Homo sapiens: one gene and its partner. Each later gene encodes a partner of the first gene's protein in a complex. Each region holds a gene or a part of one and is shown in the gene's direction. Other genes may lie near its edges. The genes, in order: DDX19B and GLE1.

Region 1 (10,614 bases):
CTACTAAAAAATACAAAAAAAGTAGCCGGGCGTGGTGGCGGGCGCCTGTAGTCCCAGCTACTCTGGAGGCTGAGGCAGGAGAATGGCGTGAACCCGGGAGGCGGAGCTAGCAGTGAGCCGAGATCAGGCCACTGCACTCCAGCCTGGGCCGCAGAGCGAGACTTTGTCTCAAAATAAATAAATAAATAAATAAGAATTTTTTATTCACCCATTAAGAGAGATTGTAGGCCAGCACAGAGACTCACACCTGTAATCCCAACACTTTGGGAGGCCAAGGCAGGAGGATCAATGGAGCCCAAGTGTTTGAAACCAGCCTAGGCAACATAGTGAGACTCTGTTAAAAAAAAAAAATTCTTTTTAATTAGCTAGGCGTGGTGGCATTCGCCTGTAGTCCCAGCTGCTCAAGAGGCTGAGGAAGGAGAATCACTTGGAGCCCAGAAGCTGAAGGCTTCAGTGAGCTGAGATCTCGCGACTGCACTCCAGCCTGGGCAACAAAGCAAGACCCTTGTCTCTCTCTCTTTTTTTTTCCTTTTTTTGAGGCAGAGTTTCACTCTTGTTGCCCAGGCTGGAGTGCAATGGCATGATCTCGGCTCATGTCAACATCTGCCTCCTGGCTCAGCCTCCCGAGTAGCTGAGATTACAGGCGCCACCACCACGCCCAGTTATTTTTTTTTCTTCTATTTCTAGTAGAGATGAGGGTTTCGCCATGTTGGCCAGGCTGGTCTTGAACTCCCGACCTCAGGTGATTCGCCTGCCTTGGCCTCCCAAAGTGTTGGGATTTCAGGCGTGAGCCATCGCGTCCGGCCCCCTTGTCTCTTAAAACAAAAAAAAGAAAGAAATTGTAATTGAGGCCCAAAAGTCTCATTCTAATATAATTATCTAATGATATTTTTCTGTGATATTTTTCTCTTGTAGATGTCAACTACATGCTAGAAAGAATGCTATCTTAATGCAATGTGCAAATTATGTATTTTAGGAAACTACTGGCAAGTTCTTGATTTACTCTAGGCTAAGCAAATAGGCCTGTAGGTGGGAGTGAGCGATATGCACATGGCTTGCTCTCCAGTAGAACATTTGTTGAACTCCATCTTGGGGCATGAGAAAGATAACCAAAGAACTGAAATAGTACAACAGCTGTGATTGCCCCACTACCCTCCAGCCTGGGCCGCAGAGTGAAACAACAGGCCAGGCACAGTGGCTCATGCCTGTAATCCCAACACTTTGGGAGGCCGAGGCGGGCAGATCACCTGAGGTTGGGAGTTCAAAATCAGCCTGGTCAACCTGGTGAAACCCCATCTCTACTAAAAATACTAAAATTATCTGGGTGTGGTGGCGGCCACCTGTAATCCCAGCTACTCAGAAGGCTGAGGCAGAGGCTGCAGTGACTCAAGATTGTGCCACTGCACTCCAGCCTGGGAGACAAGAGGGAAACTCTGTCTCAAAAAAATTAAATTAAATTAAATTTAAAAAATAATAAAAACAACAAACAGAAACAGGCCGGCGTGATGGCGTATACCTTTAATCACCATACTTTGGGATTCTGAGGTGGGTGGATGGCTTGAGCCCAGGAGTTTGAGACTAGCCTGAGCAACATGACAAAACTCAACCTCTACAAAAAAATACAAAAATTAGCTGGGCATGGTGGCATGCATCTGTAGTCCCAGCTATTCAGGAGGCTGAGGTGGGAGGATAGCTTGAGACAGGGAAGTAAAGGATGCAGTAAGCCATGATCGTGCCACTGCACTCCAGCCTGGGTGGCAGAATGAGACAGTGTCTCAATTGAAAAAAAAAAGAAAGAAATGGAAACAAGTGGAAAAAAAAAAAAACTAACATAGCTTTGGAAGGATGTAGCGCTAGACTCTTAACTCTCCCATGGCATCTTAGCTACTTTTAGCATCTATAAAATGGGTTTACAATGCTGGCTTATTTGGTACTAAGTCAAATGGGGATGGCTGAATTTTTTTTTTTTTTTTTTTTTTTTTGAGACGGAGTCTCGCTCTGTCGCCCAGGCCGGACTGCGGACTGCAGTGGCGCAATCTCGGCTCACTGCAAGCTCCGCTTCCTGGGTTCACGCCATTCTCCTGCCTCAGCCTCCCGAGTAGCTGGGACTACAGGCGCCCGCCACCGTGCCCGGCTAATTTTTTGTATTTTTAGTAGAGACGGGGTTTCACCTTGTTAGCCAGGATGGTCTCGATCTCCTGACCTCATGATCCACCCGCCTCGGCCTCCCAAAGTGCTGGGATTACAGGCGTGAGCCACCGCGCCCGGCCAAGGCTGAATTTTTAAGAACCTCTAAAGGAATATTTCAATTGAGCATATTATAATTTTTTTGTCTAATGTACTTTTCAGACCATAAAACGCTAAAGGAATCACCTAGGATCTTAAAATATTGCTAAATTGAATAGGTCTGGGGTAGGGCCTGAGAGCCTGAATTTTTTTTTTTTTTTTTTTTTTTTTTTGAGACGGAGTCTCACTCTGTCGCCCAGGCTGGAGTGCAGTGGCGCGATCTCTGCACACTGCAAGCTCCGCCTCCCGGGTTCACGCCATTCTCCTGCCTCAGCCTTGCGAGTAGCTGGGACTACAGGCGCCCGCTACCACGCCCAGCTAATTTTTTGTATTTTTAGTAGAGACGGGGTTTCACAGTGTTAGCCAGAATGGCCTCGATCTCCTGACCTCGTGATCCACCCGCCTCGGCCTCCCAAAGTGCTGGGATTACAGGCGTGAGCCACCGTGCCCGGCCGAGAGCCTGCATTTTTAACAGGCTTCAGGCGATATCTATGCTGCTGAGAGATTATACTTGGAATACCAAGGGTCTAGATTAGAGGATGTGCGTCTGCACCTATTTGTTCAGATGCAAAATTTTTAAAAAGTTTGACCCACGGGGGGAGATGCTAATGGCTCATGATTCACCAAATGAGTGACCACTATGTGTTAGTCACTGAGGATCAAGATTAAAGATCTTGCCCTGCCCTCATGGAGTTCCCAGTCTCACCAGGAAGCCAGACATTTAGCAGGAAACAAAGCCCTCTGCGGGAGGCTTGCGCTTGTCTTTGGCCCCCAGAGTTCCTGGGGCGCGTGCCCGAGCGCTGTACCGTCCCCTCAGCTGATTGGCTGACAGGATTTCCAGGCCTCAGCCAATGAGGCTCCGGCTTGGCCAGTGCCAAGAGCAGCGGTTGTTGGAGTGTAACTGCCATGCTCAGCCGCGATGGCTGGGGCTGCCGGGCGCGTCCAAGATCGCGCCCTGCGGCGGTTTCCCATCACCCTGCCTGTGGGCGACGTGAGTATCTGCGAGGGTAGAAGCCAGACCCTTTCCTCCCACGTTTAGGTGCCTTCCTCGCCCCTACTCCTGGGTAGAGGAATAACAATATTTCTCGAGGCTTCGGCCCAAGGTCTTAGCCTTGTGATCTAGAATCCGCCATCTGTGAGGTGGGTACTTCCTGTGATTTCAGGGGAAACTGAGACTGGCTAGGCTCACGTGGGAATAAATGCAGGAGGCTGAATTCCAATCCAGATGCTCTTATTCCCCGAACACTCTTCTTTCCACGCCCGCTTTGGAAACCAGGTTCCTTCTTAGCCGGAGTCTCACAAAGCGCAGGTGTATTGGGGGTGAACTTAGGAGAGTCTGAAACCCCGATGCTATTTTTAAGTTTTTTTGTTTTTTGTTTTGTTTTGAGACAGGCTGGAGTGCAGTGGCATGATCACGACTCACTGCAGCCTTGAACTCCTGGGATCAAGTGATCCTCCCACCTCAGCCTCAGGAGTAGCTGGGACTACAGGCTCACGCCACCACGCCCAGCTACTTAAAAAAAATTTTTTTTTTTTTTTGGTAGAGACGGGGTCTCCCTATGTTGCCCAGGCTTGCATATTTATTTAGTAGAAGAAAAAACACATGCTAAAATCGTGTACGGGAAGGATAAACACCAAATTTGGCATAGCTGCTGTCTTCCTGGGATGAGTATACGGAGATTATCAATTGGACCTTAGTAATTTTATTTATTAAGTTTTGAGGTGGGAATCTAAGTATTTGTTATACCCTTTCTTGTTTGTCTGAAATACATTTTTAAAAGGGAAACATGGAGCCAAGCACAGCTGCACACACCTGTAGTCCCAGCTACTTGGGAAGCAGAGGCAGGTGAACCTCTTGAACTCAGGAGTTCAAGGATATAGTATGTGCTGTAATGGTGCCTGTGAATAGCCACTGCACTCCAGCCTGGGCAACATAGCAAGACCCTGTCTCTAATTTAAAAAAAACCATGCATATGGAAAATAATTTCAGAGGATAAAGCATACTCAATCCACCCCCACCCTTCTAGAGGCCCTCACCAGGGGCAGCCATGGTTATCAGTTTTGTGTGTATCTTAAGCATTTTTTTTTTTTTTTTTGAGACAGAGGCTCGCTCTGTTGCCCAGGCTGGAGTGCAGTGGCATGATCTCAGCTCACTGCAACCTCTGCCTCCTGGGTTCAAGCAATTCTCTGCCTCAGCCTCCCAAGTAGCTGGGATTACAGGCACCCACCACCATGCTCAGCTGATTTTTGTATTTTTAGTAGAGACAGAGTTTCACCATCTTGACCAGGCTGATCTTGAACTCCTGACCTCGTGATCCACCACCTTGGCCTCCCAAACTGCTGGGATTACAGGCGTGAGCCACCGCACCTGGCCACATTTTTTTTTTTTTTAAGAGGCGATGGTTTCACTATGTTGTCCAGGCTGGCTTCGAACTTCTGAGCTCAGGCGATCCTCCAACCTCAGCTTCAGGAGTAGCTGGGACTGCAGACACAGGCCACTGCTCCGGTCTTCTTAGGCATTTTCCATAGTGTATAAAAGCATATATGGGAGCTTGGGGGCTTTTGGGGTGGGGGTTCCTGTTTGTTTTGTACAAGTGAACCTACTATATACGGTCCTGCAACTTGGGCGATGTAATTTTTAACCTCATTAAAATGTTTTGCAAATTTCATTAACCTCTAGCCCTGTGAAACAATATAATTTATCTGGGAAAATATCCCCAGGGTTGCTTCTGAATTGATGAGATGTAGGTCATGGCTACCAAGGTGGTGTTTGCCTTTTTCTTTTTAGCACATCCTCATGTGTAAGGTCAAAAACAAAAAACAAAAACGTCTTCTCCAGTTAACCCTGTGAGAGTGCAGGAAAAAATAATCATAGCAAGTAGAATGTTCTCTGGAACTGCTTTACCCTTTCTCAAAACGTTTTTACTCTTACAGTACTGGTAAAATTCCACAGAGAACCCACCATGGCTTGATTTTTGTTTGTTTGTTTTTATTTATGTATTTATTTGAGACAGAGTCTTGCTCTGTCGTCCAGGCTGGAGTGCAGTGGCATGATCTTGGCTCACTGCAACCTCCACCTCCCGGGTTCAAGCGATTCTCCTGCCTCAGCCTCCCAAGTAGCTGGGACTACAGGTGCATGCCACCACACCCAGCTAATTTTTGTATTTTTAGTAGAGACAGGGTTTCACCATGTTGGTCAGGATGGTCTCAATCTCCTGACCTCGTGATCCACCTGCTTTGGCCTCCCAAAGTGCTGGGATTACAGGTGCAAGCCACCGTGCCCAGTCTATTTATTTATTTTTTTTGAGACAGAGTTTCACTCGTCGCCCAGGCTGCAGTGTGATGGCATGATCTCGGCTCACTGCAACCTTTGCCTTCCGGGTTCTAGTGATTCTCCTGCCTCAGGCTTACAAGTAGCTGGGATTACAGGTGTGCACCACCATGCTTGGCTAATTTTTGTATTTTTAGTAGAGATAGGGTTTCACCATGTTGGCCAAGCTGGTCTTGATATCCTGACCTCAGGTGATCCACCCACCTTGGCCTCCCAAAGTGCTGGGATTACAGGTGTGAGCCATTGTGCCCGGCCTCATGGCTTGAAATTAACTTATTGTTGTATAATATTGGCAAAATGAAAGAGGTTGGGATTCATTTTTTTCAGATTGTAGGAAAATGCCTAGTTTCTTTCTAGGGAAGTAACAAGGGAAGAGAAGCTTCTTTGATTCTAGTTAGGAGAAAGCAGTTCTTTCATTTAATCCTTATTTTACAACTACTAAAAGCCCAAGATATTTCTTCCTATTTATTTATTTGTTTATGAGGCAGAGTCTTACTCTGTTGCGCAGACTAGAGTGCAGTGACACAAACACTGCTAACTGCAGCCTCAACCTCCTGGGCTCAAGTGATCCTCCCACCTCAGCCTCCCAAGTAGCTGGAACTGCAGGCATGTGCGACGACACCTGGCTAATTTTTAAATTTTTCTTGTGTAAGGATAAGGCCTCGCTATGTTGTTGTTTTCAAACTCCTGGATTCAAGCGATCCTCCCACCTCCACCTCCCAAAATGCTAGGATTACACATGTGAGCTACTGTGCCTGGCCAATCCTGGCACTTTGGGAGGTGGAGGTGGGAGGATCACTTGAGCTCAGGAGTTTGAGACCAGCCAGGACAACACAGCAAGATCTGTCTCTATCTTAAAAAAACAAAAGGCCGGGTGCAGTGGCTCACGCCTGTAATCCCAGCACTTTGGGAGGCCAAGGCAGGCGGATCACGAGGTCAGGAGATTGAGACCATCCTGGCCAACATGGTGAAACACCATCTCTATTAAAAATAGAAAAACTAGCTGGGCATGGTGGCGCATGCTTGTAATCCCAGCTACTTGGGAGGCTGAGGCAAGAGAATTTCTTGAACCCAGGAGGTGGAGGTTGCAGTGAGCCGAAATCGTGCCACTGCACTCCAGCCTGGGCGACAGAGCCAGACTCAATCTCAAAAAACAAACAAAAACCCAAGTGCTGAGATTACAGGCATGAGCCACCACACCTAGCTCTATTTAATTATTTTACTATTTTAATTTTATTTATTTTTTTCCTAGACAGAGTTTTGCTCTGTCACCCAGGCTGGAGTGCAGTGGCCCTGTCATGGCTCACTGCAGCCTAGACCTCCTGGGCTCAAGTGATCCTTCCGCCTCGGCCTCCAGAAGTGCTGGGATTACATGCATGAGCCACCGCACCGTCTGTTTTCTTCCTTTTTAACATTCTCCTGATTCTACAACGCTTACATAGGAGAGCTGCAATTCCTCCTCTTGGGGTACAAATTTATGAGTGCAGGTGCAGTTTTGTTACATGCCTAACAAGATTGCATAGTGGTCAAGTGGACTTTTAACCAAATGGGTTGTCAGGGCTGATTGCCAACATCTGGACATTTTAAATTACCAATCTGAAAAGGGAAACAGCTCTGTGCTTGTTTTGCATTTTGGTGACTATTGGTAATGGTTTTCTGTTTTGATATATTCAATCTGTTCAATCTGTATTAGTGCCTACTCTGCCACTGTGTTGGGCGGGAATCTGATTTTGTTCTTTGGTTGGAGATCCAAGTTAACCAGAGCTTAGGCATTTTAAGATAACTACCTCAGCTTGATAGGAAAGCTTGCTCTGCCCGGGGTTGAGGGGTACGGGTCTGAGGGCAACAGAATCGACAGCCTCAAGTGGGCAAAGGGTGGCCAAACAGGAGTGGCCTCCGACGTCACTGTGGCGCGCCGCTTCCGGTCTGCAGCCTTGTAGTGGGGCTGGAGCAGAGCCTGCCGCGAACCCCCGGAGCCCACGATCCCTCGTGCCATCCCTCGAATCCACCAGCACGAGCGTCCCACCCGCGCCTGGGACCATGGCCACTGACTCATGGGCCCTGGCGGTGGACGAGCAGGAAGCTGCGGCTGAGTCGGTGAGTTGGCTTCAGCCCTAAAAGGGTCAGGGGACTAGTTCTGGTCGGAGACTTGGTCCCTGGGAAAGAATGTTTCCCAGGTTGATTAGAGGCTGGATGGGGTGGCGGGGAGGATAGGGATGGAGCCTGGACCCTGAGCTGGCTTTGTTTACGCAGCCGCCTCCGCGTTACGTAAGCGCAGGTGAGTGCTCCTATCGGTAAAGCGCTCAGCTGCCTGTCTGTCTTCCTGGAACCAGGAAGAATCATAGATTGCACCCATCACCCTAGATTGTGTTTTGTTTGTTTTTAATTGAAATAGAGACATGGTCTTGCTAGGTTGCCCAGGCTAGTCTGGAACTCCTGGTCTCAAGCTATCTTCCTGCCTCGGCCTTTCAAAGCACCAGGATTACAGGCTGAGCCATTGTTCCTGGCCGCCCCGGTTTGTAATAGTTATTTTAGGTGTCATTCTCCACCTCTACATTCAGAGCTTCTTTGGCTCAGGGACCATGTCTTTGCTCATATTTGTGTGCTTCCTCAGTGATAAATGATGGACCCAGTAGGTGTGGCAGTCAGCAAATCCTTTCCTCATCGGCTTCACTTTGTTCTTTTTTTCTGGACCTGACACATGGTAAGCAAGAGATGTGTTAAACACTACTGCGTAGAATTAATTTCTCCCACCGAAACACTTTAAATCCTAGTAGGCTTTGAACCTACTTCTGTTAGTACTTATTGCTATGACTTCCTCAAGAATAAGAACCTTGTCTTTTATTTTTTATAGCTCATAAAAAATAAGTTGTATATACACATTGTTTAAAGAGTGAAGTTATTTTAAAAACAACGGTTCCCGCCAATTTTTTTCCTCCCCAGAGGCAACTCCTTTTTTTTTTTTGGAGACAGGGTCACACTCTGTTGCCCAGGCTAGGGTGCAGTGGAGTGATCTTGGCTCACTGCAGTCTCTGCCTCCCAGGCTCAAGCCATCCTCCCACCTCAGCCTCCTGAGTAACTGGGACTGTAGTCATGTGCCACTATGCCCAACTACTTTTTGTATTTTTTTTGTAGAGATGGGGACTTGCCATGTTGCCCAGGCTGGTCTCGAACTCCAGCGTGCAAGTGATCCACCTGCCTCAGCCTCCCAAAGTGCTGGGATTACAGGTGTGAGCCACTGCATCCAGCCTCTTTTTTCTGTTTCTTTCTTTCTTTACATATATTTTTTGAGAGAGGGTCTTGCCCTGTCACCCAGGCTGGAGTGCATTGACACCATCTCTTGCCAACTACAACCTCCCCTTCCCAGGCTCAAGTGATCCTCCCACCTCAGCTTCCTGAGTAACCGGGACTACAAGCATGTGCCAACATATGCAGCTAACTTTTTAATTTTTTGTGAAGACGAGGTCTCACTATATTACCCAGGTTGGTCTTGACCTGCTGGGCTCAAGCCATCCTCCCACCTCGGCCTCCCAAAGTGTTGGGATTATAGGCCTGAGCCACTTTGCCTGGCCCTTTACTTTTCTATAAAATTTATTTTACTTGGAATTCTTAATTGCCTTATGTTTATGCTTCATTTTTTTTTCTTAATTATCAATTCAACCCCAAACTGTCTTCCAGTTGTCTAAGTTTATCTCAGGATGCTTAGACTCATCAAGTATTCTATCAATTCCATTTCTCCTAGGCCTTTAAGTCTGCTTCAAATTGGACTAGTTACTCCTGTCTTTAGAGCACAGTTCATATTGGGGAATAGAGGGAACAGGGCAAATTTCCCTTCAGCCTCATTCTGCAGATTCCTTCCTCCTTTCTCTTGTCTTTTGGATCTCTTGGATCCCTTCCTTTCTGTACCCCTACTTTTCCATCTTTCTTGATTTATTCCTTATTTTAGTGCAGCCATCTGTCAGCTTTCTGGAGGTGTACGGGAAGTAAATTACTTTAAGAATATTCCATGTCTTAAAAAATCTAACTTTGCCCTGTAATTTGGATAATAGTTTGGCTGGGTATAGAATTGTAGGTTGAAAATTATTTTCCTGCCAAATTTTAAATGTATTGTTCCATTGCCTTCTAGATTTCTGTATTTGTTGTTGAAATGTTTGAGACCATCCTGATTCTTGATGTGACTTGTTTTCCCCTTTCTAAGCTTGGAGAATCTTCTGTTTGTCTTTAATATTCAGAAAATTTATGGTAATATGTCTTGGTATGGGTGTATTTTCATCCATATTACTGGCCCCTGGGTGTGGGTACTTTCAATCTGAAAAACTCTTGTTCTTCAGTTATGAGAACTTTTCCTGAATAATTTCATTGCTGATTTCTTCTTCTTTGTTTTTTCTTAATTCCCTCTTTTCCAGAACTCACTTTCTCTCTTTCTTTCTCTCTCTCTCTTTTTTTTTTTTTTTTAAGACAGTGTCTGTCTATGTTGCCCAATTTGGAGTGCAGTAGCTATTCACAGGCAGAATCATAGTGTACTACAACCTTGAACTCCTGGGCTCAAGTGATCCTCCTGCCTCAGCCTCCCTCGTAGCTGGGACTACAGGTGCGCACCACTGCATAGCTTTTCCCAGAACTCTTATTAGATGAATGTTGGATCTGTTGGACTGGCCCTTTAATTTTTTTTTTTTTTTTGAAATGAAGTTTCGCTCTTGTCCGCCAGGCTGGAGTGCAATGGCACGATCTTGGCTCACTGCAACCTCTGCTTCTTGAGTTCAAGCGATTCTCCTGCCTCAGCCTCCCGAGTAGCTGGGATTACAGGCATGTGCCACCATGCCTGGCTACTTTTTGTATTTTTAGTAGAGGTGGGGTTTCACCATGTTGGCCAGGCTGGTCTTGAACTCCTGACCTCAAGTGATCCGCATGCCTCAGCCTCCCAAAGTCCTAGAATTACAGGCGTGAGCCACCACACCTGGCCAGCCCTTTAATTTTTTTAAAAGTCAGGTTTATGG
Region 2 (9,566 bases), on another chromosome or scaffold:
CCCAAGTAGCTGGGATTACAAGTATGTGCCACCATCCCTGGCTACTTTTTTGTGTGTATTTTTAGTAGAGATGGGGTTTCGCCATGTTGGCCAGGCTGGTCTTCAACTCGTGATCTCAAATGATCTGCCCATCATGGCCTCCCAAAGTGCTGGGATTACAGGTGTGAGCCACTGCACCCAGACTCACGTTTTGTTTTGTTTTGTTTTGTTTTGTTTTAGACAGAGTTTCATTCTGTCACCCAGGCTACAGTGCAGTGGTGCTGTCATAGCTCACTGCAGCTTCAAACTCCTGGGGTCAAGTAGTCCTCCCACCCCAGCCTCCTGAGCAGCTAGGACTACAGGCGCACACCATCACACCCAGCTAATTTTTGTATTTTTTGTAGAGATAGAGTCTCACTATGTTGCCCATGCTGGTCTTGAACTCCTAGGCTCCAGTGATCATTCCGTCCTGACCTCCCGAAGTGTTGGGATTATAGGCATGAGCCACTGTGCCTGGTCTTAGAATATTTTCAGAAAGAAACCCCATACCCATTAGAAGTCACTCCACACTCGCCTCCCCAAACCTCCTGGCAACTCCTAAGAAAGTCCCTATGTCTCTATGGATTTCTATTTTGGACACTGCACAGCGGGCCCATGCTCTGTTTCTCCTCGTTAGGCGGACCGCCGCTACCAGAGCCGGCTGCAAGACCTGAAAGATCGCCTGGAGCAGTCCGAGAGCACCAACCGCAGCATGCAGAACTACGTCCAGTTCCTCAAATCATCATACGCCAACGTGTTTGGGGATGGTCCCTATTCCACCTTCCTGACTAGCTCTCCCATCCGCTCCCGATCTCCTCCTGCCTGAGGCCACTTATCAGGGCCTGGAGCCCTGATGGAAGCCATAGGAACTCCAGAGTTGCCAAGCCATAGCTGAGAAGCCTGGTGGTTTTCCTCTCCCAGTGAAAAAATGGGTTCAGGGTCTTGTCCTTAGCTACTAGCTCTAGAAAAGTCCCAAAAGCAGCAGAAGGTGAAGCAGGAAGCACTTGGTTTTCTCCTTCCTGATATAGTCACCTGTTGGAAGTGTTAAAATTTCCTCGACAGGCCTTAAATTTACTACTACATTAGGGTACCACATTTTAACTTACCATGACTTTGCTCCTTCCTTTCCTGAGAAAATATTTCCACTGGATTTTTTCCACCAGTCCCCTTACAGCCCTCATTGTTTTAGGAATCTCTCTCAGGTTTTTTCTGACCTAAACCAGCAGGAAGTCGTCCTGGGCTGTAAGCACCATCACTTGCTTTTTTTTTTTTTCTGATTTCACAAGTGTGGTGTTTTCCCAAGGCTCCCTTCCCAAGCTCAGTGCAAACCTCTCACTCCCAAGTTTCTTTGAGGCCACTTGCCCCCAAGCACTTCACAATAGACCCTCGAGGGCTTGTGTCCATTTGGCCTTTTACAAGTGTAATGCCAATTTCATTGATTTTTGTTTCTTTTGGCCTGATTTGTATCTCTGGAATGCATTTATTCTTGAAATATTTGTGTGATTTTACAAAAAGCTTTTGTAATCAGTTATTTAAGGCTCCATTTGATGATTTCCTTTACCCAACCAGTCCTCATCCCTCCTCTAAAAAATGATTAAGTAAAATGCTGCAGGACAGCCAGTAGACATTTTTAAAGTACTTGGTGCCTGAAACATCAGGCTTCTCATTTCATTTTAGCTCAGGTTGGTGCTTTCACATTGTAATCAATGAACTGTCAGGAGGGAACAAACTGTAAGAAGGATTGCTTGGTGTTTTAGGGTAGATCACTTTAGCTATTAGGAAGAGGATGGGGTAGTGTACAGTATATATTTTTAAAATGTGAATTGGTTTCTGAATAAGAATCTGGGCCATTTTTGTTCACCATTTTTGTTCGTACTGTGCTAACCTCTGCCCTTCTGATTCTAGCTAGTATTGGCCTGGGTGGTCCAGTCTTCTCACCTCTCAGCCACTCTGACTCAACTCTAGAGAATTTCTTCTCTGTTCTTTTTTCTTCTGGAGACAGGTCTCTGTCACCCACACTGAGTGCAATGGCGGGAACATGGCTCACTGCAGCCTTGACTTCCCTAGCTCAAGCAATCCTCCCACCTCAGCCTCCACAGTAGCTGAGAGCACAAGTGTATGCCACCATGCCCATCTAATTTTATTATTTTTTGTAGAGACAGATCTCACCACATTGCCCAGGTTGGTCTTGAATTCCTGGGCCCAAGTGAACCTCTCATTTTGGCCCCCCAGAGTGCTGGGATTACAGGGGTGAGCCACCACACCCAGCCTTCTCTGTGTTCTTGAATCCACCTAGGCATCTGGATTTCAAAGACCAGAAATCTCTTTTCTCTACCAAATTTTGAGGATATTTATAGTTTCCAGCTTTCAGTTTTTCCAATGAAGGTAATTCCAGCTACCACTGCCAAAAAAACTAAGCCCATTTTCATACTCTTAACGTAAATAGACAAGAACTTATAATAGGTGAAAGACCTTCCCGAGAAAGGACAATTGACAAACTTCCACCAGCATGTATATATATCTGTATAACTCATTATTATTTTTGCCAAACTAGAGAAAACCTCAGTGCAGGGCACTGCTATGTAACTCTGGTGTGAGCAACACCTCTCTTGGAGTCCCTTGCTGGGACTCTGGGGACTCTTCCAACAATTTTTCTTTTTAAAATATTTTTATTACAAGAAGTCCAGGGAATTTTTAAAAACTCAGAAAATGAAAATTGTTCACATTGCTCATACTCCAGAGAGAATTCTTCCTACCTCAAACTGAGATCTCACGAGGTGGTGGACAATGGAAGGGTCAGAAAGTCTGGGGTCCCAGTTAGAGCCGTCTCTGGACAATTGTGACTCATTCTATTTTTATTGAGATATAATTCACATAAAATTCACTCTTTTTATTTTTTTGAAACAGGGTCTCCCTCTGTCATCCAAGCTGGTGAGCAGTGGCACAATGATGGCTCACTACAGCCTCAGCCTCCTGGGTTTAAGCGATCTCCTGCCTCAGCCTTCTGAGTAGCTGGGAGCACAGGTGCATGCCACCATGCCTGGCTAATTTTTGGATTTTTTTTTTTTTTGGTAGAGGCAGGTCTCATCATGTTGTCCAGGTTGGTCTCAAACTCCTGGGCTCAAGCCATCCTCCTACCTTGGCCTCCCAAACTGCTGGGATTACAAGCATGAGCCACCATACCTGGCCTAGAATTCACCCTTTTAAAGTGTAAATATAGGCCAGGCGTGGTCACTCACACCTGTAATCCCAGCACTTTGGGAGGCCGAGGCGGGTGGATCACCTGAGGTCAGGAGTTCGAGACCAGCCTGGCCAACATGGTGAAACCCTGTCTCTACTAAAAATACAAAAATTAGCCGGGAGTGGTGGTGGACGCCTGTAGTCCCAGCTACTTGGTAGGTTGAGGCAGGAGAATCACTTGAACCCAGGAGGTGGAGGTTGCAGTGATCCAAGATCACGCCACTGCACTCCTGCCTGGGCAACACGGCGAGATTCTGTCTCGAAAAGATAAAGTGTATATATAATTCAATGGTTTGTAGTATATTCACCAAGTTGTGTAGCCATCACCATTATCTAATTCTAGACCTAGTTTTTTCTTTTTTCGAAATGGAGTCTCTCTCTGTCACCCAGGCTACAGTGCAGTGGCACCATCTCGGCTCACTGCAGCCTCTGCCTCCAGAGTTCAAGGGATCCTCCTGCATCAGCCTGTGGGGACTATAGGTGCATGGCACTTTGCCTGGCTAATTTTTGTATTTTTTGTAGAGACAGGGTTTTGCCATGTTGCCCAGGCTTGTCTGAAACTCCTGACCTCAGGTGATCTGCCCACCTTGGCCTTCCAAAGTGCTGGGATTACGGCACCCAGCCAACCAATTTCATCACTCCCAAAAAAGAAACGCCATACCCATTAGCAGTCACTCCCCATTCCCCTCCCCCAGCCCCTGGCAACTAGTCATAAAGTTTCTCTGGCTCTATAGATTTGTCTCTTCTGGATATTTCACATAAGTGGAATTGTCCAACATGTGGCCATTCATGACTGGCTTCTCTCAGCATAATGCTTTCAAGATTGATGTTGCAGCGTATCATCAGCACTTTATTTTTATGGCCCCATAACATTCCATTATATAGATGTGGTGTTTCCTCCTGCCAAACAGGGCTGGTTGGGATTCCAAAGAAGCACTATGGCCGGGCGCAGTGGCTCATGCCTGTAATCCCAACGCTTTGGGAGGTCGAGGTGGGTGGATCAACTGAGGTCAGGAGTTCGAGACCAGCCTGACCAACATGGTGAAACCCCGCCTCTGCTAAAAATACAAAATAGCTGGGCGTGGTGGCTGGCGCGTGTAGTCCCAGCTACACGGGGAGCTGAGGCAGGAGAATCGCTTGAACCCGGGAGGCGGAGGTTGCAGTGAGCCGAGATCGAGCCACTGTACTCCAGCCTGGGGGACAGAGCAAGACTCTGTCTCAAAAAAGCAGCATTAAACCCAAAACATTTATTAGGGAAGCTTACAGAGTGGGCTGCAGCAATTCTCGCGACAGACAGAGAGAAGCGGTGTTTCACCTAGGTACATCCCCAGCGAGGGGTCAGGGTATGAAGTTTATATGAGGGTTTATGGAATTTGGCTAAAAGCAGGGGTCAGTTTCAGCGTTTTGGGCAATAACCTAGATATCCTTAGTGCCTAGGGATATGCAAGGCCCGTGTTTGGTTGCAAGTCTGCAGGAAAAAACTTGCAGCTGGCTGGGTCACAGGGCGGTCAAGGCACTCTGATACTTGGTCAGTGCACAGAAAGCGGGGGAACTCGGGAACCGCGCACATAGTACTATATTTTATTTATCCATTCACCAATGGATGGACGTTTGGGTTGCTTTCACTTTTTGGCTATTATGAATAACACTGCTGTGAACATTCATGGACAAGTTTTTATATATACATAGGTTTCATTTCTTTGGCGTATTTTATATATATATATATATTTACCTAGGAGAATTGCTGGGTCAAATGGTAATTGTTTAACCTTTTGAGGAACTGCCAGACTGTCTTCCACAGCAGGTGCTTCATTTTACAGTCCCATGAGCAGTGTATGAGGGTTCCAGTTTCTGCACAGTCTCAAGGCACAGACAAATTTTCAGCAGCCCCGGGGATTGGGAGCGGTGGTTACCTCTGCGGAACGTGCCCCGACAGCCAAGCCCTGCGCGCAGGCGCACTGGTGGGAGGGCGGGAACGCGGGAGCGTCGCCGGAGGTGGGGCGTGCAGGCGTTAGGGGCGGGGCTGTGCTGCGCGCGCGTCCCGGAAGCAGAAGCCTGTGTGGCCTTCCCGGCGGCTGATTCGAGGGCTTGTTTGGTCAGAAGGGGGGCGTCAGAGAAGCTGCCCCTTAGCCAACCATGCCGTCTGAGGGTCGCTGCTGGGAGACCTTGAAGGCCCTACGCAGTTCCGACAAAGGTCGCCTTTGCTACTACCGCGACTGGCTGCTGCGGCGCGAGGTGAGCGGTGGCCCCGGAGGACGTAGGCCTTTCCGGCCCCTCGCGACCGAAACCTTCTCCCTAGCCGTTGGCACGTTCTGCTCCCGGGAACCCGTGCAGTCTAACAACCTGCATTTATTTCTTGACTTCTGTGTGTACATCCCTCTGTCCTGGGGTTTCTGTCCTCTTCAGCCTATTTTAGCGTTTCGGGGAGCTCCCCTGACTTCACAGGTGCCCCGCGCTCTGAAGGCTTCATTGCTACCCTCCGCCAGTTGGGCGCCTTCTCCGTTCTGCTGTTGTCAAAGCAATCTCGGCCCCAGGTTCAGTTAACTTACTGTATGTCTCATGTGCTGGGAGCTCTAGAGTTTGCGACGAACGATTGACACGACCTAATCCATTGCTACTAGTGAAATGACCAAATTTTTAGATTGATTTGGCAGACCTGGAAAGTGAATGGGGGCGTGGTCACCGTACCTAGCATTTGCAAAGCTCTGCGCGAGAAGTGGAGGGATGTGGAGAGTTAAGGCCGAGCTCCCATTCCCGAGTCGCTGCTAGTTAGCTACAGATAAGGCGTTGTCCTGCATCCTCAGACTTCTTGGGAAACAATCCTAAAGTATTTCCCTGTCTTTTATGTTGTTGACAGTTTTGAAAAATACAGACCTTACATTCTGTAGGTTGACTGCCAGCATATGTGCTTTCAAACCACCAGACCAAGGTTAAGCATTCTTGGCAGGAATACCACAGAAATGATGCCATGGCTTTCTCAGTAAGTCACATGAGGAGGCACACAGATGTCAACCCATCCCAACACTGGTGATGCTAATCTTGATCACCTGGTTACGTTATTATCTGCCTGGTCTCTCCGTTTAAAATTCGTCATTTTTCCCTTAGTAATTGTTGGGAAGTAATAATACCAGTATCCTTTTTTCTGGGCAAACCTTAATCCTCCATGGCTTTAGCATTCATTGATGTTTTCCACATGAATCGATACCTCTATGACGTTGCCAGATCCTGTTTCTTTATATCCGCTATTCCTTCTGCATTTGTTAGTTGGCATTCTACTGTAAGGAGGTGCTTTCTATTTTATTCAGTGAGTTGTAATCCATTACTTTTATTATTTATTTATTTTATTTTAAATGTCCCAGATTTTGTAAGCTTGTATCAAAATAATCACATGCAAGGCTAGGCGTGGTGGCTCAGGCCCGTAATCCCAGCACGTTGGGAGGCCGAGGGGGACGGATCACTTGAGGTCAAGAGTTCGCGACCAGCCTGGCCAACATGGTGAAACCGCATCTCTACTAAAAATACAAAATTAGCCGAGCATGGTGGTGCATGCCTGTAATCCCAGCTACTCGGGAGACTGAGGCATGAGAATTGCTTGAACCCTGGAAGCAGAGGTTGCAGTGAGCCGAGATTGTGCTGCTGCACTCAAGCCTGGGTGACAGAGTGAGACTGTGTCTCAAAAAAAAAAATGTAGCCTTGTAAATATGTACAACAATTATGTATTCATAAGAATTAAAAAGAAAAATGTCCCAGATTTGGCTACTGGGCACCTCATTAAGTTGGTTCCTGTGTTCCTGTGACATATTTCCATCTTTCATTGACATTTCTTTACTTTTTGACACAAAAAGATGTCCCAGGTGCAAGTTTCCCTGTCTTAATCCTGGAATCAGCTATTTCTCCAAAGAGGCTGACTCTTTTGAAGTGGAGGATGGTGCTGTATTGGCAAACCAAGATCTGGGAGTTGAGTGTGTTGAGATTCTTGATTGGGTACCATTGCTTCTAGGCCTTCTCAGTAGACAGAGCTAGGAAATAATACATATCTAAATATGTACACACATCACCACACACACATTTATGTACTGTCTATTTGTGTGTACATATATATTATAAAACCATGACTTCATACTGATAAATGCCACTTCCAACCCAGCACTTCACTTTTCTTTCTAATCTTACCCCATCCATGTTTGTAAATATGTTACCTAGCAGTGAGAAGTTTGGCTCCTGTTATTCTCAATATGTTTACTTATTTGCTCAATCAGTTTACTTTATCTCATTGTAGCAATCTCTGAACTACTCTAGTTTTTTCATTTATTTATTATATCATAGGTAATCAGTACTTATTTTCTCATACAAAGATGTTCCACGCTCATCTTATATTTTTCTGCCTCCAGTTCTGGAACTTACCTTTTCTGCAGAGACCCCTGGTTTCCTTTGATTTAAAATTATATTTACAAACCAAGATCTGGTACTAGATATGCTCATTATTACTACTAAGGGTGTATACATACATATCCATATCTATTTCTATTTTTTAAAATATTATTAGGCTGGTTGTGGTGACTCATGCCCATAATCCCAACACTTTGCGAGGCTGAGGCAGGACGAGTGCTTGAGGCCAGTTCAAGCTGGGAGCCAGGCTTGGTGTCTCACACCTGCAATCCCAGCACTTTGGTAAGTCAAGGTGGGCAGATCACTTGAGCCCAGAAGTTCGACACCAGCCTGGGCAATGTGGAGAAACCTCACCTCTACAAAAAATACAAAAAAATTAACCAGGTGTGGTGGTGCGTGCCTGTAGTCCCTGCTCCTTGAGAGGCTGAGGTGGGAGTATTACCTGAGCATGAAAAGTTGAGGCTGCAGTGAGCCGTGATCACGCCACTGCACTCCAGCCTGGGGAACAGAATGAGAGCCTGTCTCTCAAAAAAAAAAAAAAAAAAATAGTCGGGCGTGGTGGCTCACGCCTGTAATCCCAACACTTTGGGAGGCTGAGGTGGGTGGATCACCTGAGGTCAGGAGTTTGAGACCAGCCTGGCCAACATGGTGAAACCCTGTCTCTAGTAATAATACAAAAATTAGCCGGGTGTGGTGGTCGACACCTGTAATCCCAGCTGCTCGGGAGGCTGAAGCAGGAGAATTGCTTGAACCCGGGAGGTGGAGGTTGCAGTGAGCTGAGATCGTGCCACTGCACTCCAGCCTGGGTGACAGAGCAAGACTCCATCTCAAAAAAAAGGCTGGGCACACAGTGGCTCACGCCTGTAATCCCAGCACTTTGGGAGGCTGAGGCGGGTGGATCGCCTGAGGTCAGGAGTTCGAGACCAGCCTGACTAACATGGAGAAAACCCCGTATCTACTAAAAGTACAAAATTAGCCAGGCATGGTGGTGCATGCCTGTAATCCCAGCTACTCAGGAGGCTGAGGCAGGAGAATCACTTGAACCTGGGAGGTGGAGGTTGTGGTGAGCCAAGATCGTGCCATTGCACTCCAGCCTGGGCAACAAGAGCGAAACTCCATCTCAAAAAAAAAAAAAAAAAAGACCAGCCTGGGCAACATATCAAGACTCCATCTCTATAAAAAATGAAAAAATAATTAGCTGAATATAGTGGCGCATGCCTGTACTCCCAGCTGCTGGGGAGACTGGTTGAGGTGGGAGGATAGCTTGAGCCCAGGAGGTCAGGCTACAGTGAGCCATGATTAGGTCACTGCACTCCAGCCTGGGTAACAGAGTGAGACCCTGTCTCAAAAATAATTAATTTTAAAAATGAAAAAATATATACATCTAGGTTTGTGTAAGGATGCTTTACGATACTCGCACAATGACAAGATCACCTAACCCTGTGTTTCTCAGAACTTACCCCCATTGTTAAGTGACTGACATTCTACTGATTGTGTATACAGTAGCTTACTTCAGAATTCCTCGTGTTCTGTTCAGTGCTTTAGATTGCTTTCACATATGCTTTAGTGGGAATCTTTGTGCATTGTCCCTTTTTCTGTAGTTAGGGTTATTTAGTCTGATTTTCATTAGAAGGATAGTAGTCTAGGTCATTATCAAGAAACCACTGTACTTTGTTTTCATCTGATTGTTAATACATTACTTTGGGTCTTTGATGTTTATTTATTTAGGCCTTCTTAGATGTTCAGTAAGGCATGTAGTGGATTATACTGAGAACAGTTGACGTGTAAGTTGAGCTTAACCCTATTCTTTTCTCTAGGATGTTTTAGAAGAATGTATGTCTCTTCCCAAGCTATCTTCTTATTCTGGATGGGTGGTAGAGCACGTCCTACCCCATATGCAGGAGAACCAACCTCTGTCT

The links.
Region 2: the proteins of DDX19B (region 1) and GLE1 are in contact, whole or in part, in a crystal structure (PDB 6B4J), measured with the Homo sapiens proteins. Residues at the interface, in NP_009173.1 of Homo sapiens: Cys325, Asn326, Tyr328, Gly329, Ala330, Ile331, Thr332, Ile333, Ala334, Glu356, Gly357, His358, Gln359, Arg378, Arg380, Glu381, Gly382, Lys383, Glu384, Lys385, Glu400, Gln401, Ser403, Phe433, Gly434, Lys435, Arg436, Asp469, Asp470, Leu471; in NP_001003722.1 of Homo sapiens: Lys416, Lys419, Met420, Gln423, Lys424, Thr427, Ile428, Ser431, Gln432, Ile433, Ser434, Thr435, Ile436, Lys440, Gln458, Ser459, Gly460, Lys479, Lys483, Lys486, Gln487, Glu490, Glu491, Ser494, His495, Gln554, Gln562, Asn565.

What each region holds. Positions count from the first base shown.
Region 1 is NC_000016.10:70,291,641-70,302,254, forward strand, and holds the start of DDX19B (ATP-dependent RNA helicase DDX19B), read left to right. Parts: upstream 1-7,545; 5' UTR 7,546-7,657; coding exon 7,658-7,714; intron 7,715-10,614. UniProt on the Homo sapiens protein: ATP-dependent RNA helicase involved in mRNA export from the nucleus.
Region 2 is NC_000009.12:128,499,412-128,508,977, forward strand, and holds the start of GLE1 (mRNA export factor GLE1), read left to right. Parts: upstream 1-5,307; 5' UTR 5,308-5,394; coding exon 5,395-5,493; exon of another isoform or gene 5,494-6,562; intron 6,563-7,804; exon of another isoform or gene 7,805-7,821; coding exon of another isoform or gene 7,822-7,929; intron 7,930-9,464; coding exon 9,465-9,566. Other genes in the region: ODF2 (outer dense fiber protein 2), read left to right, coding at 656-844. UniProt on the Homo sapiens protein: Required for the export of mRNAs containing poly(A) tails from the nucleus into the cytoplasm. May be involved in the terminal step of the mRNA transport through the nuclear pore complex (NPC).